2 linked regions of the Homo sapiens genome follow. The protein of the gene in region 1 purifies or fractionates together with the protein of each later gene. This does not show direct contact. Each region holds a gene or a part of one and is shown on either strand. Other genes may lie near its edges.

The links.
Region 2: the proteins of ZNF302 (region 1) and SH3GLB2 purify together in Homo sapiens (affinity purification with mass spectrometry; one large-scale study listed by BioGRID and IntAct). This does not show direct contact.

Annotation. Positions count from the first base shown.
Region 1 is NC_000019.10:34,683,538-34,686,960, reverse strand, and holds the end of ZNF302 (zinc finger protein 302), read right to left. Parts: intron 2,970-3,423; coding exon of another isoform or gene 2,788-2,969; exon of another isoform or gene 2,710-2,787; coding exon 1,724-2,709; 3' UTR 565-1,723; downstream 1-564. UniProt on the Homo sapiens protein: May be involved in transcriptional regulation.
Region 2 is NC_000009.12:129,025,339-129,029,818, reverse strand, and holds the start of SH3GLB2 (endophilin-B2), read left to right. Parts: upstream 1-1,487; 5' UTR 1,488-1,664; coding exon 1,665-1,727; exon of another isoform or gene 1,728-2,160; coding exon of another isoform or gene 2,161-2,256; intron 2,257-4,480.

The sequences.
Region 1 (3,423 bases):
ATTTAAACCCAGGTAACAAGACTCCAAAGCTTAATGCTCTTCACACACACACATCTCGAAGCTCTTAAGGAGTATGGAGTGTTTCTTAAGTCCACAGAAGATGCTCAAGAAATGGTTAATAGGTAAGATTGAGGAAACAATATGTTGTCAGTGACACCATAACATTATTATTATATTCTGGACAAACAGTGTTAGTGTCCCCTAAGAACGTGTGAAAAATGCAAATTCAAATCAACTCATACAGAAACTCTAGGACTGAGGCTTAGCAATCTGTGCTTTAACACGTCCTTCCAGTGATTTCGACACAGCACTAGAGCTCAGAACTACTAGATTCCTTTATCCCATCCCTGTGTAATACACATGAGTAATGCTCAGTAAATGTTCTTGAAATGTATTTAATTAAGCCTACTGGATATGGACTCAATAATCCTCACCAAAATACTGCTATTCTTAGTATAAAGAGCAGGCCATTCTTCTCGAAGTTTGCTAGTCTCCCGCTAAAGGCTATACTAAGGCTAATCTTAGTGAAATTTTTTTTTGTCGCAAACAGTCACAGAGAAAGAGTTCATGATATACAAAATGATTTTATTAGATGCCAAATTTTTATTAACACCATTTTATTTCTTTTGCAGCTTTAATTTTTAACATTATAACATTTACTGGCTCCTCTGGGTGACTAAATATCTTCACATGCCCACTAGCTAAAAAGAATTTCTAAGTAGAACTCAACTGAAACTGCAAGCTACTGCTCTAAGAAATGCATACTTATGTTTATTTGCTCTCCTATATAATCCTGTTTACAAATAGCATAACTGCAAAGATTTATATGTAATTTCTAAATCCTTCAGGTTGCTCTACCATTCATCTTCTTATGTCTGGCAAGATAAACACTCTTAGTGAACACTTTGCTGCATCTCTTAAATGAGATTTGTCTCCAGTTTATTTCCTATAGAATAAGGGATGCACTTGGAACTGAAAAATTCCTTCAATTTCTAAAGTTTCCACATTCATACAACTTTTCTCCTGTAGGAGTTTGCAGGAGATTCCTATTGCCTATAGTCTTTCCCACATTTGCTACATGTACACAGATTTTTCCTAGTGTGAGTATACTTAGGTCAATTAAGGGATTAATACTGACAAAGGCTTTCCCACATTTATTGACTTCATATGATTTCTCTACAGTATAAACTCTAATAAAAAAATCTGCATCATTGCTAAAAGTCTCCCATGTTCACCACCTTCATACAACTTTTCCCCAGTATACATTTTTCTGATGTTAAATAAGGGAGGATCTATGAATGAAGTTTACCGTGATAAACACTGCTTCTCTTCTGTAAGATTTCTCACATGTATAGGGATTCATATGATCTAAAGGCTTTTCCACACTTACCACACTATTGGGTTTCTCTCCATTATGTACTCTTTGATGGGCAGTAAGATTCGAGCCTTTGCTAAAAGCTTTCCCACACTCACTACATTTATATGGCTTTTCTCCAGTATGAATTCTCTGATGTACAGTAAGGTTTGAACTACAGCTGAAGGTCTTCCCACATTTAATACATTCGTAAGGTTTCTCTCCAGTATGAATACTGTGATGTTGAAGCAGGGACGACCTATGACTAAAGGCTTTCCCACATATACTGCATTCGTAGGGTTTCAATCTAATGTGATTTCTCAAATGCATATTCAGTGATTCAAGCTGGTTGAAGGATTTCCTGCATTTCTAAACTTCAAACGGTTTTTCTTCAGTATGAATACTCTGATGTTGAACAAGAAATGAGAAGCTACTAAAGACCTTGAGACATTTGTTGCATTCATATTTTTTCTTCATACTGTGAATTCTTTGATGTTGAGTAAGGTGTGAGCTACAGCAGAAAGCTTTCCCACATTCTCTACATTCATAAGGCTTCTCTCCAGTATGGCTTTTCTGATGGTGAATGAGAGACGAACTATGAATGAAGGCCTTTCCACATATACGACACTCATAGCGTTTTTCTTGCGTATGAATTCTTAGATGCTGAATGAGAAGGGACACACGACTAAAAGACTTTCCACAGTTCATACATTCATACGGTTTCTCTCCCGTGTGAGTGCTCTGATGGTTAGTAAGTGATGAGCCATGGCTAAAGGCCTTCCCACATTCAATGCATTTGTAAGGTTTCTCTCCACTATGGCTTATCTGATGTCGTGTAAGGGATGAACCATGGCTAAAAGTCTTCCCACATTCACGACATTCATAGGGCTTCTCTCCTGTATGAATTCTCCAGTGGCGACTGAGGATTGACTGTTTGCCAAAGGCTTTCCCACATTCACTGCATGTATAGATTTTCTCTCTATTACAAGTCTGGGGAAGGGTAAGAGATTTGCTCTGGTTGAAGGCTGCCCCACTTTTATTAGAATTTAAAAGTTTCTTTCCACCATTTATTCTCTCACTTTTTATAACTGACTTTTTTGATAAATTCTTCTTTAATATATCATATTTGTGTGAATTCCCTTCAGCAGAATTGTTTTGTGGTTCAGAAAGAGTAGACTTTGAATGAAAGGTGCTTCTAAATGTGTCGCATTCTGTATATTCCAAATTCTTATTAGAATTTGAAAATTCATAACTTTGTTTTACAACTTTTTCCATTGTTACTGGTTGGGGTGAATCTTCATCATAAATATCCTTCTTTGTTGATAATTCCTTGTTTTCCCATCTTGATTCCCAATCTGAAATATATCAAGAAAGCAAAGCACTGCCTTTTTTTTTTTTTTTTTTTTTTTTTTTTTTTTTTTTTTTTTTTTTTTTTACTTCTTGAAAAAAGCTTCTACAGTGGAATTAGGAGAATTGGATAAGAAATGAAGCACCCAGAAAACACATAGTTCTGACAACTCAAATATTTCAGTGACTTCTGAACAATGCTCAAATAGAGCAGAGAATCCAAAGTTCACAGAAGCAGGAACAGAGTGTGATAAAGGAAATGGGTAAGCTGTACGAAATGGATAAAATAGTATGGAAAAAAGGAAAGTATCAGAAATAAGATGTGGAAGGCATTCAGGATTACAAATCATCATTTTGTGCCTATATTCATGTGGGAAAGGTTGCATTTTGTTTCATAGCCTTTTTTTCCAACCTTCCATTAATCTCAATTTGCTGCTGGATTATCAAGCTTAAAATACAGAATTGATACTACTATATTAAACAACTGCAGTAAAAACAAAGTAAATGCTCTTTATAGCTGACAAAGATATAGGCTTTCTGAGGTTATGAAGAAACTGTGTGAATCATATTTTTCTTGAACATTAGAAAATATTATTCCTAGAAACATTTATATGTCCCTTACTTCCTCTAATATGTTCATATTTCATCTACAAAGCTCAGCTTTAGAAAAGTGATTTTCCATCTAACTGACAGCTTTTCTTAGCTTAAAACTATTAGTATAT
Region 2 (4,480 bases), on another chromosome or scaffold:
AAAAAAAAAAAGAGGAAACCTAGAGGTAGACAGCAAGGAGAGGTGAAGACCAGTACAAAGCCTCTATCTGAGCCCCAAGGGAAGGCATTTGGGGTCAGGAGCACCTGTAGGTCATCTCCTTGCCTGGGGCTGTGAGGAGCTGGTTTCAAGGTTATCACACATCTGTGCTCCCAGGGCAGCTCATTCTCTCCACCCTGACAGTCACCCAACCTTTGATCTCCTCCTCTCACCACACAGGGGGCTCCAGGCCCCAGCTCCAGAACCCCCTCCCTTCCCGTGACCGCCACCCCAACCCTCCTCCAATTTGGGGAAGCCACAGGGCCTCCCAGGCTGACAAACAGCTGTTCCAGCGGTGGAGGGCAAGTCCCAAGCCTGACTCCGGCTCAGTCACCAAGGTCAGGGCAGAAGAGAGGAGGAGAGGTCAGAGAGGAGGAGTAACGGGAGGAAACCCAAGGGAAACAGAGTGGAAGAAATGGGAATGGGAGGGAGGGGGTGTGAATAAAGAGCGGAGATGAAGAGGCACAAACAGGGGAGAGGCAGCAGGCCTGGGTGGTGGGAGGAGAAAGCAAGAGAGGCCCATTTTAGAGATCTGTTGCACATATTGGTGACTACTCAGTCACTTAGTGACTTTGGGAGACTGAGGCAGGCAGATTGCCTGAGATCAGGAGTTCAAGACCACCCTGGGCAACATGGCAAAACCTTGTCTCTCCTAAAGTACAAAAAATTAGCGGGGCATGTTGGTGGGCGCCTGTAGTCCCAGCTACTCGGGAGGCTGAATGAAGCAGGAGAATCGCTTGAGCCCGGCAGGTGGAGGCTGCAGTGAGCCGAGATCGCGCCACTGCACTCCAGCCTGGGCGACAGAGCAAGACTCTGTCTACAAAAAAAAAAAAAAAGTATTGCATATTTCAAAATTGCTAAAAGAGTACATTTGAAATGTTCTAACCACAAAAAAAGTAGGTGAGGTGATGGATATGTCAATTAACTTGATTTCATCATTCCACAATTTCATCACCTTGTAGGCCGTAAATATATATTTATCAATTAAAACTTTTGAAAAGCATTGGTAAGATGGCAAATAATATGTAATTATGGCGTGTACCTGCAATCATCTAAGAGCACATGTGTTCCAGTTTTAATAATTTTAGTAAAAGGAAAAAAAGAGGCCGGCCCAATCCGCGGCGGCAGGCGCATGGGGGCAGCAGCGAGCACTGCCCAGCAGCGAGCCCTGCCCAGCACAACCTGCTCCCCAGACCAACCCCCGCTCTGGCCGCGCCAAGGCCTCGCCCCCACCCATGTAGCTCCGCCCCACTGCCCTCTCGCTCCGCCCCTGTCCCGCCAGTCCCGCCCCCTCCGACTCCGCCCGGCTTCCGCCAACCAGCCCGGCCCCCGCCCCTCTAGCTCCGCCCCACTGCCGTCCCGTCCCGCCCCGGCACCGCCAGCTCCGCCCCCGCCCCTCTGGCTCCGACCCGCGGCCTCCGCGCCCCGCCCTGCGCGCTCGGGCTGGCTCGGCGGCTGCGGCGGGCGGGCAGGCGGGCAGGCCGGCAGGCGGGTGCGCGGAGGGCTGGTGCCCCGCAGCAGGTGGGCGGGGTGCGGTTGGCGGCGGCGGCTGGGCCGGGGGCTGCCGGCTGCGCTCGGGCCGTGCGCGGCGGCCGTGCGGGCACGCCATGGACTTCAACATGAAGAAGCTGGCGTCGGACGCGGGCATCTTCTTCACCCGGGCGGTGCAGGTGAGGCCTGGCGTCGCGCCGTGCGCCGGGGGCCCGGATGTGCGGCGGGCGGGGAGCACCCTGCGGCAGACGCCTGGGGACGCGGGAAAGCCCTCCCGGGCTGCTGCCCTCGTCCCCGCCGCGGCACACCTCTGCCCCCCTGAGCCCTTGCTGACCGGAAGAGGGAAAGAGCCCGTGCGGCCCGAGCCGGGCCTTGGCCCTGCTGCCTGGGGCGAGGCACCGGTGCCCACCCTTTGGGCTGGTTGGGTTACCCTGCTCCCCTGGCGCCTGCCTGGCTGAGGAGGGGAGGAGGCACCGGCTGGGTGCTACCTCCCTGCCCTTGTCCAGCAGTGACTGGCGCCTGGCGGGGCATTTAGCGACCTGGGTCCCAGGCCCAGGGACTCATGCGTCCACCACAACCCCTTCTCCGAGCCTCAGTCTCCGCACCTGTGCAATGGGCGGCTGGTGCCATGAGTCCCTCATGGCCATTTCACACGTTTGGATAGTCAGGCCGGAAGCCAGGAGTTGTTTCTTTTCTGCTCCACGGGAGGTCTGTTTCCTTGGTCCCTGGGCCTGGGGGATGGAGAGAGGGCTGGGGTCTGGCTGGGAAGCTGTCCAGGCCCACGATGCTGAGATTGGAAGAAGTCCTATCCGTTTAGGGGCAGAGAGTAACAGGCAACTCAACATCATGGGAAGACCTAGGGTCAGGTGTGGGTGGGAATGTGCCCTCCTGTGACCTTGGGGGAGGGGCCTTCATCTCACTGGGCCTCAGTTTCTCAGTCTGAAAAATGGGATCAGTATTCCTGCCTCCCAGGACAGATGCGAGGATTCTGTGGGACTCTGCATATGTGTGCTCACCAAAGGCAAGCTCATTATTGGTGTCAAAGTGGTTAATATTGCACCTGTGCAGCATGTGACCTTGGACAAGTCACTTCTCTCAGAGCCCCGCCCTCCCCTTCTGTAAATCTGGTGTAACACCGTGGTTATGGGATTCAGTGGGATTCCGCAGGCCCGGGGCTGGCCCATCCCAGGGTTCTGGGAGCAGGTCCTGTAGTCTTGTCTTTGTCGTTGTCGTTGTCATCGTTGTTGTTTCTGTTGAGTACAGTTCTCTCCCCACCCCCAACCCGGGCACTCCCCTCCCCAGGAGCCCACACCCAGCCAGCAACCCATGTAGTCATGTTTACTAGAAGGTGCTGTGTCCCGCTGAGGATTAGCATCCCAGCGAGAATTCACTGCTTAATGTGTTCCAAGTCTGGTGGGCAGCCCCAGCCCTAGTGGAGATGCCAGGATCCCAGAGCCCCTCGGATTGGACGGCCCCAGTCCATCTGGGAGGGGGGAACCCACTCTGCTGTTGGTATGGCAACCACACTATCTCCCACATCTGGGAAGAACCTGATCTGCCAGTTCCCTGCTAGGGCTGGGGCCCTGCTGCCTGACCTGGCCAGGGCTCTCAGGACCTAGGCAGGGCAGGGCCTAGGTGTGGCTCCGCTTGGTGGGAGCTGCCCCACAGGGTCACTGTTACTGGAGTGGGAGCCAGCAGTCAGGCCCCAGCCTCGGGGTGGGAGGGAGGGAGCTGAGAGCTTTATAAATAGAGGCTTTCTCTGCTCTGCACGCCCACCCCACTGCTGCCATTTTCCCGGGAGCAGCCTCGGACTCCAGCACCAAACCCCTTCCTCTTGGCAGGATTGGGGCAGAGTGGCAGGCCAGGGGATAGAGAGGCCTGAAATGTGACCTGGCAGGAGAGGCCACAGAGGGGCTCCGCCTGAGACCAAGCTGGCCTGGATGGGAGACAGTCAGGAGGGATGGGAGAGGGGTTCTTTATGATCAATACATGTGATGGGCTCAGGAACCTCCCAGTCCCTGCAGGTACAAGAAACAACTTTAAGAGCCTCCCCGATCCAGCAAGGAACAAGGCCTTGGCCCTGAGATGAGGATCCAGAGGGCAGGATCCCTTTTGTATGGGTCATTCTGGGATGGTCTCCTGCATGGAGGGCCCCTGAACTGTGCTCAGAAAGTAGGGAGGGGCTCATGATGTTGGTCCAAGTGGCAGGAGCAGCCCAGATAAGGGCACCGAGGCAAGAAAACCTAAGGCAGATTTGGACAAGATGCCAGTGGGGGTGGGAGAGGGCAGGAGGAGTGATAGTACTAATACTATTAGTAGTAATTGCAGTAACAGTAATAGTAGTGGTAGAAGTAATACTTATAAAGTCCAGAGAGGTGGTGGCATCGTCATCATGGAGCTAGGCAGACTGCAGTGGACATGGGATGGATGCCGTCTAGTTTGGGAAAGCCTGGTAGAACTTCTCACCTGGGCAGATGTGGCCTGTAAGGGAGGGCGGGGTGGGGAGTGCTGCTCTGAACCTTGGTAAGGAGGGGAGGTGTTGAGGTGCACATTTAGGGTGATGCCCTTGGTACCATCAGGGTAGCTCCTGAGAGCTGAGGAGGGATGTGAGGGAGGCCTGCCTGCCTGCCTGCCTGCCTGCCTGCCTTCCTTCCTTCCTCCCTTAGTCCCTCTCTCCTTTCTTCTTTCCTTCCTTTTTTTTTTTTGAGACAGAGTCTCATCCTGTCGCCGAGGCTGGAGTGCAGTGGCACAATCTCGGCTCACTGCAACCTCCACCTTTCAGGTTCAAGTGATTCTTCTGCCTCAGCCTCCCGAGTAACTGGGATTATAGGCACCTGCCACCACTCCTGGCTAATTTTTTTTTTGTACTTAGTAGAGACAGGGTTTCACCACGTTGGCCAGGCTGGTCTCAAACTCCTGGGCTCAAGTGATC